Linked DNA regions of Homo sapiens: region 1 is linked to region 2. The links come from fine-mapping of genetic effects on gene expression. A gene starts in region 2. The other region holds a variant in brackets. All regions are shown on one strand. Distances are between the middles of the regions.

Region 1 (5,383 bases), 22 kb before region 2:
AGACCCCTTGATATCATTCATTGAAAATGAGAATAAATGGAATTGGTGAGAATGGATGATTGTCCCTGTTATAAAGGCTTATTAATTGTCTACCCAGGGTTAACATTTTAGTAGGGGAATGAAAATGGTAAGGCGAAGGTATAATGAATGGTTCTGCAAAGAGCAAGGCAGAAAAATCAATCAAACTATTATGATTCAGATAGGAAATAAAGGTTCCACCTGGCATTTCACCACCAAGGATGGTGAAGGGCAGATCCAAAAATTATTTAGGAAGAAAATTTGACAGGTCTCTCAATGACCAGCTGAATGGGGAGGAACTGGGTACACACAGATATGAAGATGAGAACAGTAGGCCAGGCACGGTGGCTCACTCCTGTAATCCCAGTACTTTGGGAGGCCGAGGCAGGTGGATCACTTGAGGTCAGGAGTTCAGGACCAGCCCGGCCAACATGGTGAAATCCCGTCTCTACTAAAAATACAAAAAAAATTAGCCGGGCATGGTGGTGTGCACCTGTAATCCCAGCTACTCAGGAGACTGAGGCAGGAGAATCACTTGAACCCAGGAGGCAGAGGTTGCAGTGAGCCGAGATCACGCCACTGCACTCCAGCCTGGGTGACAGAGTAAGACCCTGTCTCAAAAAAAAAAAAAAAAAAAAATGAGAACAGTAGACACTGGTCTCAAACTCTTGGCCTCAAATGATCCTCCCCCCCTCAGTTTCCCAAAGTGTTGGGATTACAGGGTGAGTCACTGGCCTAATTTTTCTAATATAAAGATATTTCTGGCTGGATGTGGTGGTTCACATCTGTAATCCCGGAACTTTGAGAGGCTGAGGTGGGCAGATCACAAGGTCAGGAGTTCGAGACCAGCCTGACCAACATGATGAAACTTCGTCTTGACTAAAAATACAAAAAAAATTAGCCAGGCATGGTGGCACGCGCCTGTAATCACAGATACTCAGGAGGCTAAGGCAGGAGAATCACTTGAACCCGGGAGGCGGAGGTTCCAGTGAGCTGAGATCGAGCCACTGCACTCCAGCCTGGGTGACAGAGTGAGACGCCTTCTCAAAAAAAAAAAAAAAAAAAGATATTTCTTAGACAAACAGCACTATAATAAATCATTGCTGCATATGTGTTCAATATTGGTCTTCCCAAATAATACTTCATACTTTCTTTCTTGTATTATAGTATCACCCATAATGATTCCTTTAATTTAGCATTTATTTACTTTCCTTTTTTTTTTCTAGACCTGTTGGAACAAGCCTCGCATGTCACTAACACAAATATTAGTATTCCCAGGTTATGTACCTGCTCCCTGGAATTGAGGTTAACAGAAAAAAATAACATATCAATCTGACCATTCCCCCAACCTCCAAAACAATCATATTCACAATTTTGTCTCAACACACATCTGTAATTGCTGCAATTGTGTGTCTTGAATGACTACATTTGTCTGTCTTGTTTCTATCTGACTTTAAGGGTCTCAAGGGATTTTCTGATATTCAAAAAGCATTTGTTGAGAAGGGGGCAGGAAAACAATATGATAGATAAAAGAATCACATGAAGACAGTCAGATCTGGGTTTGAATCCTGGTTCCCCTTCTTCTGGTTGTATCATCTAAGCCTCAAGATGTCCCTCATCTGTGAAATAAGAACCTCACAGGAGCAGTGTAAAGGTCAGTTAAGACAATGCATATAAAGTGCTTAGTGGAGTGCTTGTCTTTCAGCAACCTCTCAAAAAACATTATAAACCAGCTTCCAAATAGCTTTGTGCAGTCTCCCTCTTAAATGCAAACAGACAACCAAAGATAATCTGAGGAAAGCTTCTAATATGATAGACAAGAGGCTAAAAAAGAGAAAAAGGAACTTGAAGGAAACAGAGACAATATCACCAGTATGCTCAGAGATATAAAAGACAGGCTGGGTGTGGTGGCTCACACTTGGAATCCCGACACTTTGGAAGGCCGAGAAAGGAGGATTTCTTGAGCCCAGGAGCTTAAGACCAGCATGGACAACACAGTAACACCCCTGTCTTTACAAAAAATACAAAAATTAGCCTGGCATGGTAGCTTGTGCCTGTAGTCCTAACTACTTGGGAGGCTGAGGTGGGAAGATTGCCTGAGCCCAAGGGGTTAAAGTTGCAGTGAGCCGAGATCATGCCACTGCACTCCAGCCTGGGACAGAGTAAGACCCTGTCACACACACACAAAAAAAAACCAACAACAACAACAACAAAAAACCAACAACAACAAAAAAAAACGTACTGCACCCATGAAAAATACCAAAGGAATATTTAATAAATGGGAAGCATTCTGGAAATTATGTCATTTTTCATTAGGTAAGCAAAAAATGCAGATTTGGAAGATAAATTTGAGGAAATCTTCCAGAACTAGAATAAAATAACAGTGATTTTAAAAGAAATACAAGAAATGTAGATAAATCCAGGTTAATATCTAACTACTCCCCAGTATAACAGTGAAAAAGTCCTAAGATGTCGTTTATGCCAGAGGCCTAGAGCAGGGGTCCCTACCACGAACTAGGTACGGGTCTGTGGCCTGTTAGGAACCAGGCTGCACAGCAGGAAGTGAGCAGTGGGAGGGCGAGCATTATGGCCTGAGCCCTGCCTCCTACAGCGTTAGATTTTCATAGGAGGGTGACCCCTATCGTGAAGTGCTCATGCCAGGGATCTAGGTTGCATGCTCCTTATGAGAATCTAACGCCTGATGATGTGAGGTGGAACAGTTTCATCCTGAAATGATCCATT[T/C]CCCGATCCATCCACCCCACCCCACGCAACCCTGGTCTGTGGAAAAATGGTCTTCCATAAAACCAGTCTCTAGCGCCAAAAAGGTTGAGGACTGCTGGCCTAGAGAGAAACCATTCCAAAGTGGAGCAGGACACTTGTGGGCTCCAGGGGAGGAAAGGAACTGATGAATTACGAATGTGTTTAACTGTTTGAGGGGGATTTTTGAGAGCTAACAGAAAAGCCTAAGAATAATAATGATACATACATTGGTGGGGAATGAGGGAAGGTGGGGGGAGGACCAAACAAAATTAGTAATTATTAACACAAGAAAAAATTTTTTTAAAGGAAATGTGATGGGCCAGGCATGGTGGTTCACGCCTGTAATCCCAGCACTTTGGGAGGCCAATGCAGACGGATCATCAGGTCAGGAGTTCGAGACCAGCCTGACCAACATGGTGAAACCTCGTCTCTACTAAAAAATACAAAAAAATTAGCTAGGCACGGTGGCGCGCACCTGTAATCCCAGCTACTCAGGAGGCTGAGGCAGGAGAATGGCTTGAACCCAGGAGGCAGAGGTTGCAGTGAGCTGAGATTGTGACACTGTACTCCAGCCTGGGTGACAGAGTGAGACTCTGTCTCAAAAAAAAAAAAAAAAAGGAAATGTGATGATAATAATATAGGGCTCAGCTGCTAACATTGTTTACTAAGTTATAACACTGAATTCCGATCTAACTGTGATAGAGCTGACTGGGAAACAGAAAGATGGAAAGACGTTGAAAGGGTAGGTAAGTGTGCTTCCGAGAGGACGTGTTAAAACAGCTAAATCCTCACCTACCATATCAATAAGCTAGTAGATAGAGTCTGTAATGAAAAAGATAAAAGAACAGTTGAAAGAATGTTACTGAATAATAAAATACCACTTTGTACCCACTAGGAAGACTATAACAAAAAGACAGACAAAAGCTAGGTGCAGTGGCTCATGCCTGTAATCCCATCAACTTGGGAGGTGGAGGTGGGAGGATCACTTGAGGCCAGGAGTTCACGACCAGCCTGGGCCATACAGCGAGACCCAGTCTCTACAAAAAATAAAATTAGCTGGGCATGATGGTGTGGGCCTTTGTCTCAGCTACTTGGGATGCTCATACTGGGGATCATCTGAGCCCAGGAGTTCAAGGTTCCAGTGAGCTATGATTGTACTACTGCACTGGCCTGGGCAACAGAGTGAAACCCTGTCTCTAAAAATATTTTTCTAAAAAAATCAGACAGACAATAACAAGTGCTGATGCTATTCACAACAGCAAAGACATGGTAACAACCCAGCCCATCAGCAGTGGATTGGATACAGAAAATATGTTACACATACACCATGGAATACTACACAGCCATAAAAAAGAATGAAATCATGTCCTTTGCAACAATATGGATACAGCTGGAAGCCATTATCCTAAGCAAACTAAAGCAGAAACGGAAAACCAAACATCATATGTTCTCACTTACAAGTGGGAACTAAACACTGGGTACACATGGAAATAAAGATGAGAACAACAGACACTGGAGAATATAAGAGGGAGAGTGGAGGGAGGAGGGCAAGGGTTGAAAACCTACCTATTGGGTACTATGCTCATTACCTGGGTGATGAGTTCAATCATACCCCAAACCCCAGCTCACACAATATACCCTTTTTTTTTTTTTTGAGATAGAATTTTGGTCTTGTTGCTCAGGCTGGAGTGCAATGACGCAATCTCAGCTCACTACAACCTCCGCCTCCCAAGTTCAAGCAATTCTCCTGCCTCAGCCTCCCAAGTAGTTGGGACTACAGGCACGCAAAACCATGCCCGGCTAATTTTTGTATTTTTAGTAGAGACAAGGTTTCACCATGTTGGCCAGGCTGGTCTCGAACCACTGACCTTAGGTGATCCACCTGCTTCGGCCTCCCAAAATGCTGGCTGGGATTACAGGTGTGAGCCACGGCGCCTGGCATACCCTTGTAACAAACCTGCGCATATACTCCTTGAATTTAAAATAAAAGTTGAAAAAATAAATAAATAAATAAATAAGAAAAACCCAGAAGCAGTGTAAAGAGCAAAAACAAAAAACTTGCAGTTCAGAGCTGGAGATAATGTCTTTGAGCCAAAAGCCAATCACTTTATGATTATAATGTAGAACAGCTTAAAATGATTTTTCCCCCTAAAGTTGAAATAAAGATGTTAAAAAAATCCATCACTTAAAATGAAAGGCATTATATAAAATTATATCTAGATCAGTGAGCAAAAAGATTACGTAACTTTGAGAGACTGTAATGTGCAGATTCACCCACAATACATGTCCACTGTCCTCAATGAGTCACTGGCAAGTACAGTTCTGTAACTATGCTCATCTGTTACAGGTAAATTCTCCAACTGTCTATTGTCCAATTATAACAGCTTCAAATTCACAATTTAGAACCTGTAACCTCCAGTGATTTTGTCAATTGTTAAGCCATGTCACCCATACAGATGCCTCCCCTATGGGACAAAGGAGAAGATGACCTAAAATTGACAAATTTCCCTTAAGGGAAAGGTTGTAAAACCGGGCATAAACTTAGTAAAATCAGGGTCCACTGTCCGTAAGACTAGTTTGTTTTTCGTATAGAAAGGAAGTTCTT
Region 2 (5,383 bases):
CAACATCTCTGACTAAGGCTAGATTCAAGGAACAGGCATCAGTGCCCAATATGGGCACTGCAAGGGGGGTGCGTGTGTATGCCAGAGCTGGGAGGGTGTATAGGGATGGTGCAGGGGTTGGGGGGTTGGGGGGCAGTGTGGGGTGGGATGAGTGGTCTGGCTTTGGCAAAACCAAAGAGCTGAAAGAGGCCTATTGTGATGGGTGGTTCTCAAATCAATCTTGTGGGTTAGGTATAATATTTGACTTTACTACATTTTATAGATAATAAGGTTAAGGCAAATTAACCTTTAAAAATCAAGATGGAGACCCAAGCCAACCAGTGAAGAAAGCAGAGCCTATTTCCTGCACTCTTCCTGCCTTCTTAATGCCTCTTCCCCCAGCCTGTGCCCCCTGGCTATCAGGCCCACTGTGGCAGCTTACCCAGCTTTACTTTTGGATCCCTCATGTGTGGTGGTCTCAGAACAGTACCAAACTCTTAAGACTTGGCTTCCTTTTTTTTTTTGTAGGATCCTGTCCTTTCCAAACTAGATTATTGTATAAACTGATCCCTCCTAAGGTAATAACAGTTTCTAACACAAATTTGCAGTTTAACAGGGCACTGTGGAAGCATATCTGCAACTTAGAAGTGACTGACTCCTTTACCACAGCAAGCCAAAGTTGAGTTTAATCTTTGGGAAGGCACACAAATGACACTCCCACTGGCAACTCATTTACATAGATTGCTCTTTAGAGGAGACACACATTCTTTCATTTGGTTCTCATAGAGCTGAGATGGGAAAAAAGAGACAATTATTATAGTTATTTTACAGATAAGGAAACTGAGGTTTAAGGAAATTATGTCCTAACACCACCTAGGAAGTGGCAGGGAATGGATCCTAATACAGAACTCTTCAATCCTTTTTCTCCATCACGTTGCCTTGTTGCCTACTGAAAATTGTGTTGAGGGGTAGCTTCATCATGAACAAAATCGGTCCTAGCACTCTGATCCTGGTTCATGTTCAGGGTCTCAGTCTGCCTTACTCTGGATAACTTCAAGTTGTTTGTCTGTTGGTGAAAGATTGGTCACAAAAGGTGTTGCTAAAGATGTTCTCATTAACAATTTTACTGTAGATTAAAGAGATCAGAATTCCAAAATATCCAGTGATTTCAGTTAGTCCTCAATCATAAGTTTGGTGTCTGAGAAGCTTTGGACACATGGTATTAGGAAATTTTTTCTATCTGCAGATTGCTAGTTTAAATTCAAGATTCCCATCTTTTTTTTTTTTTTTTTTTTTTGAGACTGGGTCTGAGATCTCAGCTCACTGCAACCCTCACCTCCCAAGTTCAAGCGATTCTCCTGCCTCAGCCTTCCGAGTAACTAGGATTACAGGGGCGCACCACCACGCCCGGCTAAATTTTGTATTTTTAGTACAGACGGGGTTTCACCATGTTGGTCAGGCTGGTCTCGAACTCCTGACCTCGTAACCCGCCCACCTCGGCCTCCCAAAGTGCTGGGATTATAGGCACGAGCCACCGCGCCCGGCCAAGATTCCCATCTTTTAAGTGAATTGAGCAGATGGCAGACCCTGCCCTCTACCTGCTGGACTGGTGTCCACAACAGATTTAACAATGAAAACTGATCAGTGAAAAGGCCGTCTCGCTGTACCCTAAAGAGCTGTTTAGGAAACACTGAAACCTCAGTGATTTGCTTATCTGTATCCGTGTCTGATTTAGCCAGTGAACACGTGATGGTTTTAAACACACATCTTTAGAGCACTATGTTGAGATCCGCTTATAACCAAGATCTTAAGGTAATAACGAAACACACCTGACAGAACAGTTTTCCTCAAATTACTATATATAGCCAGATATATCTCTATATATCCATTCCCGAGATGCTGGAGAGTAGAGAGTAAAATTCTATACTTTGCACTTGCCAGAAGCAGAGTAACATAAATGTTGTCTAGGAAGCTTTTACAACAGACTGGTGAAAATTAAAACACTTTTCAACGCCTCGATTTAGAGTAATTTTCGTGAGCGTAGAGAAGGGGCTGGGCCAGGACCACCAAGTAGGGACTATGTGCACAGGGACCCGCGTTTACCAGCCTGCCCTCAGCTGGGCGGGGAACCGGACAGCCCTCAGCCTGCACCCAGCCCATGCGAGGTCCCAGCCCAAGTCCCGCCCCAGTATTACCGATGCCCCAGCGGGCTGAGCCACTTTCTCCTCCTCTTCGTCCTCCAAGATCGCCTCCGCTGCCGCCAGGGCCTTTAAGGGGTCTTCGCGTTCGTACTGGGCGACCCGCGCTCCAGTGATGGGATTTACCGGGGTCTGGAGACTGGAGGCCACCAGCTTCGCCACTCGGTGGGAGGTGGCCATCGCCCCGCCTCCGAGGCCTGAGCGCCTGCGCTGGCCCGGGACGGGAAAGCTGGTGCGGCCCCTGGCAACCCGGGGGCGCCTAGCTAGGGAGCCGGTTGCTATGGGCGCCGTAACTGGGGACGCTACAGGAGCCGCCAGGGACCAAAAGTCACGCAAAATCCACTCAGGCTGCCAGAGACCCGAGTCGGGTGCTTACTGGATCATGGCAGTCAGTACCGAGTCTGTTGGCTGGTTCCGAAGGTTGGCAGGCTGAACAGGGCACTTATTCCACTCCTTTGCGTCTAACCGCCTGAACGCAGACTTCTCACATTATACAATGAAACAACTGCTTTTGTGAAGAAAAGAACGCTTTTTTATTAACTGCAATAACATGTTAGAAGGAGACAGTTGATGGAGGAGACGGCGGCGGCGGAGGAAAGCAGGGCGTGTTACTGGGTGGCGGTCTCAGAAGAGTGACAAGGTTGGCGTCCCGCTACCTAACATGTCTCCCGCGGGGGCCAGAGTGGGAAGGAGGGCGGTACATTCTACTCTGATTGACTTGAGGGCTAGCAGGAATCCACCAATCAGAAGGAGGCTCCCAGTTGTCCCTCTCGCTTTTTTCTTGACATGACCAATAAAAGCCCAGAGTTGGGTGGCGCCTGACCCTCCCACTAATGAGTGATAGTGCAGGTATTGTAAACCTGGCGTTTGCTTTGGGTTCTTCAGCTTGAGAGTGACAGGATTGAACGGCACAAGTGCCCAAGAGTCACCACAGACACATCCATCTCCCTCATCCGTATCTTCTCTTCCCACTCGGGATTTGGACGCATCAAATGGCGCCTTCCCTCTGCACCACGTGGCAGTAAGAGAAGCCAAACCTCAAAATAGCGGACGTGGTGCAGTCTCAGACATCTGCTCCCTGAGCCCCTGCTTACTGAGGCCGAGGCTGCCGCCCCCTATCTACTCCCTATCTACCCCCTCTCTATCCTTTGCCCTCCTCCTGCTCCCCAGCCCTACGACCGGCCCCCTCCGGTCAGTATTTTCCTCGTTATGCGCTGCACATCGTCGAGAACCCGTCTCTAAGGTCTGAGCCCTTACCAAACCTTTGTTCTCCTGTCTGGGTGTGAGCACCTACAAAGTCTCCTACGTCCCCACTTCCTTCAGGCTGCTCTTGGTTTTAGCTGAACAGTTGCTTCCCATGCTGGAACAGATGCTGACTGGGTTCTAAGCAGAAGCCAGAGCCAGAACCATGAGATATGCACCGCCAGGTGTGGCCAAGTTTCCAGGGGAGCAATTTCCAGTCAGACACGGCAGCCAGTTTTGTGGCTACAAAACTGCCTCAGCCTCCGGAGTAGCTGGGATTACAGGCGCACTCCCGGGAGGCGGAGGTTGCAGTGAGCCGGGATGGCGCCACTGCACTCCAGCCTGGGCAATAAAGCAAGACTCCGTCTCACCACCACCACCACCAACAAAAGTATTGATAAGGAATTATAGCAGATGAATTATAAATAATGAAATATCCTATTCTCTTTACTGTAAATTCCTCATAGACAATTGCTTCTCTCAGAATGCTTTCGTTGGTTTATGCTGTACTCCTGTATTTGTGGCCAACTTATGGTTGCAATTGTTTAACAACCTAGTTCCAACATGAATGTTGGTTAATATTTTTGTTTTTATTTGTGATTAAGATGAGAGTGACATATCCAAGATCTATGTCAGAATTTCACTTGTCAATGTTATGAGCAACTTCTTTGCTGAAATAGATAATCATTTTCTAACACTGGAATAATTTTTCTTAATTTTTTCTGCAAGTCACAATGTAAAGGCTACAGATAACACAAACTTTTAAGTTTACTCTGCATTAATATTTTCCACATCCGTTTCTTAAGTTTAAATGTCCAATGTTTAGCTTTTGCTGATTTCCATGATGTCAATATTCCCATCATAGCCAATTTCAAGCCACCAATGTGACATCACTTAATAAGAATTTGAGAAAAGATGTCTAGTAGCACACCATTATATAGTATTTCCACCATACAGATACAGTAGATGCAAGGAACATAAAAGAAAGTGAAGAGTTTTAAGAAATTATCTTTGTTTTTGACATAATTTATTGTAATTAACAAAACAATTTTTTTTTTTTTAAGATGGAGTCTCCTTGTCACCCAGGCTGGAGTGCAGTGACGTGATCTCGGCTCACTGCAACTTCCGCCTCCCAGGTTCAAGCGATTCTCCTGCCTCAACCTCCCGAATAGCTGGGACTACAGGTGCCTGCCAACACGCCTAGCAAATGTTGTATTTTTAGTAGAGGGCAGGGTTTCACCATGTTGACCAGGCTGGTCTTAAAATCCTGACCTCAGGTGATCCGCCTGCTTTGGCCTCCCAAAGCACTGGGATTACAGATATGAGCCACCACGCCCAGCCAAGTTAGACATTATAAAAGAAAAATAACTAGAAAAGCCTTTTTAGTTGGGAAATTTAAAACTCTTCAAAAAACAATTTGTGCATTACAGAAAAAGTCATGGCAGAAATTATCTAGAGAGTCAAATAACAACAAAAATACAATGTGTCAAAATGTCTTAAATGTAAAATGGTGCAGCCACTTTTTAAAAGTTTAGGCCTTCTTTCTCCCACCGTCCCTCATGTTCTTCCTTTCCATCTTGGGCCTGGCAGAATGGCTCCTGCAAAGAAGGGTGGCAAGAAGATGAGCTGTTCTGCCATCAACAAGGTAGTGACCCAAGAACACACTTGGGTCACTAGCTCACATCCATGGAGTGGGCTTCAAGAAGCATGCTCTGTGGGCATTCAAAGAGATTCAGAAATTTGCCATGAAGATGGGCACTCCAGATGTGTGCATTGATACCAGGCTTAACAAGGCTATCAGGGCCAAAGGAATAAGGAATGTCCCACACCATGTACATGTGCGATTGTTCAGAAAACATAACAAGGATGAAAATTCACCAAACAAGCTCAATACTGTGGTTACCTGTATACCTGTTACCACTTTCAAAAATCTAGATAGTCAGTGTGGATGAGAACTAACTGCC

Evidence for each region. PIP is the estimated chance that this variant, and not a neighbour inherited with it, causes the effect.
Region 1: its variant is the best candidate, but not a certain one, in a credible set for the expression of FAM161A in whole blood (INTERVAL, PIP 0.68).

The regions. Positions count from the first base shown.
Region 1 is chr2:61,830,048-61,835,430 of GRCh38, forward strand. All of the region lies in intron 5 of FAM161A (FAM161 centrosomal protein A), which reads right to left. Among named protein-coding and RNA genes, the nearest start is that of FAM161A, 21 kb to the right of the region's middle. The variant T/C (reference allele first, on the strand shown) is at 2,761.
Region 2 is chr2:61,851,685-61,857,067 of GRCh38, forward strand. It overlaps FAM161A (FAM161 centrosomal protein A), which reads right to left and starts at 2,376. Exons shown (of 7, transcript NM_001201543.2): 1 at 2,175-2,376. The coding sequence starts at 2,357. It also overlaps the pseudogene RPL31P30. RefSeq lists enhancers at 1,860-1,989, 2,150-2,309, 2,550-2,779, 3,520-3,569.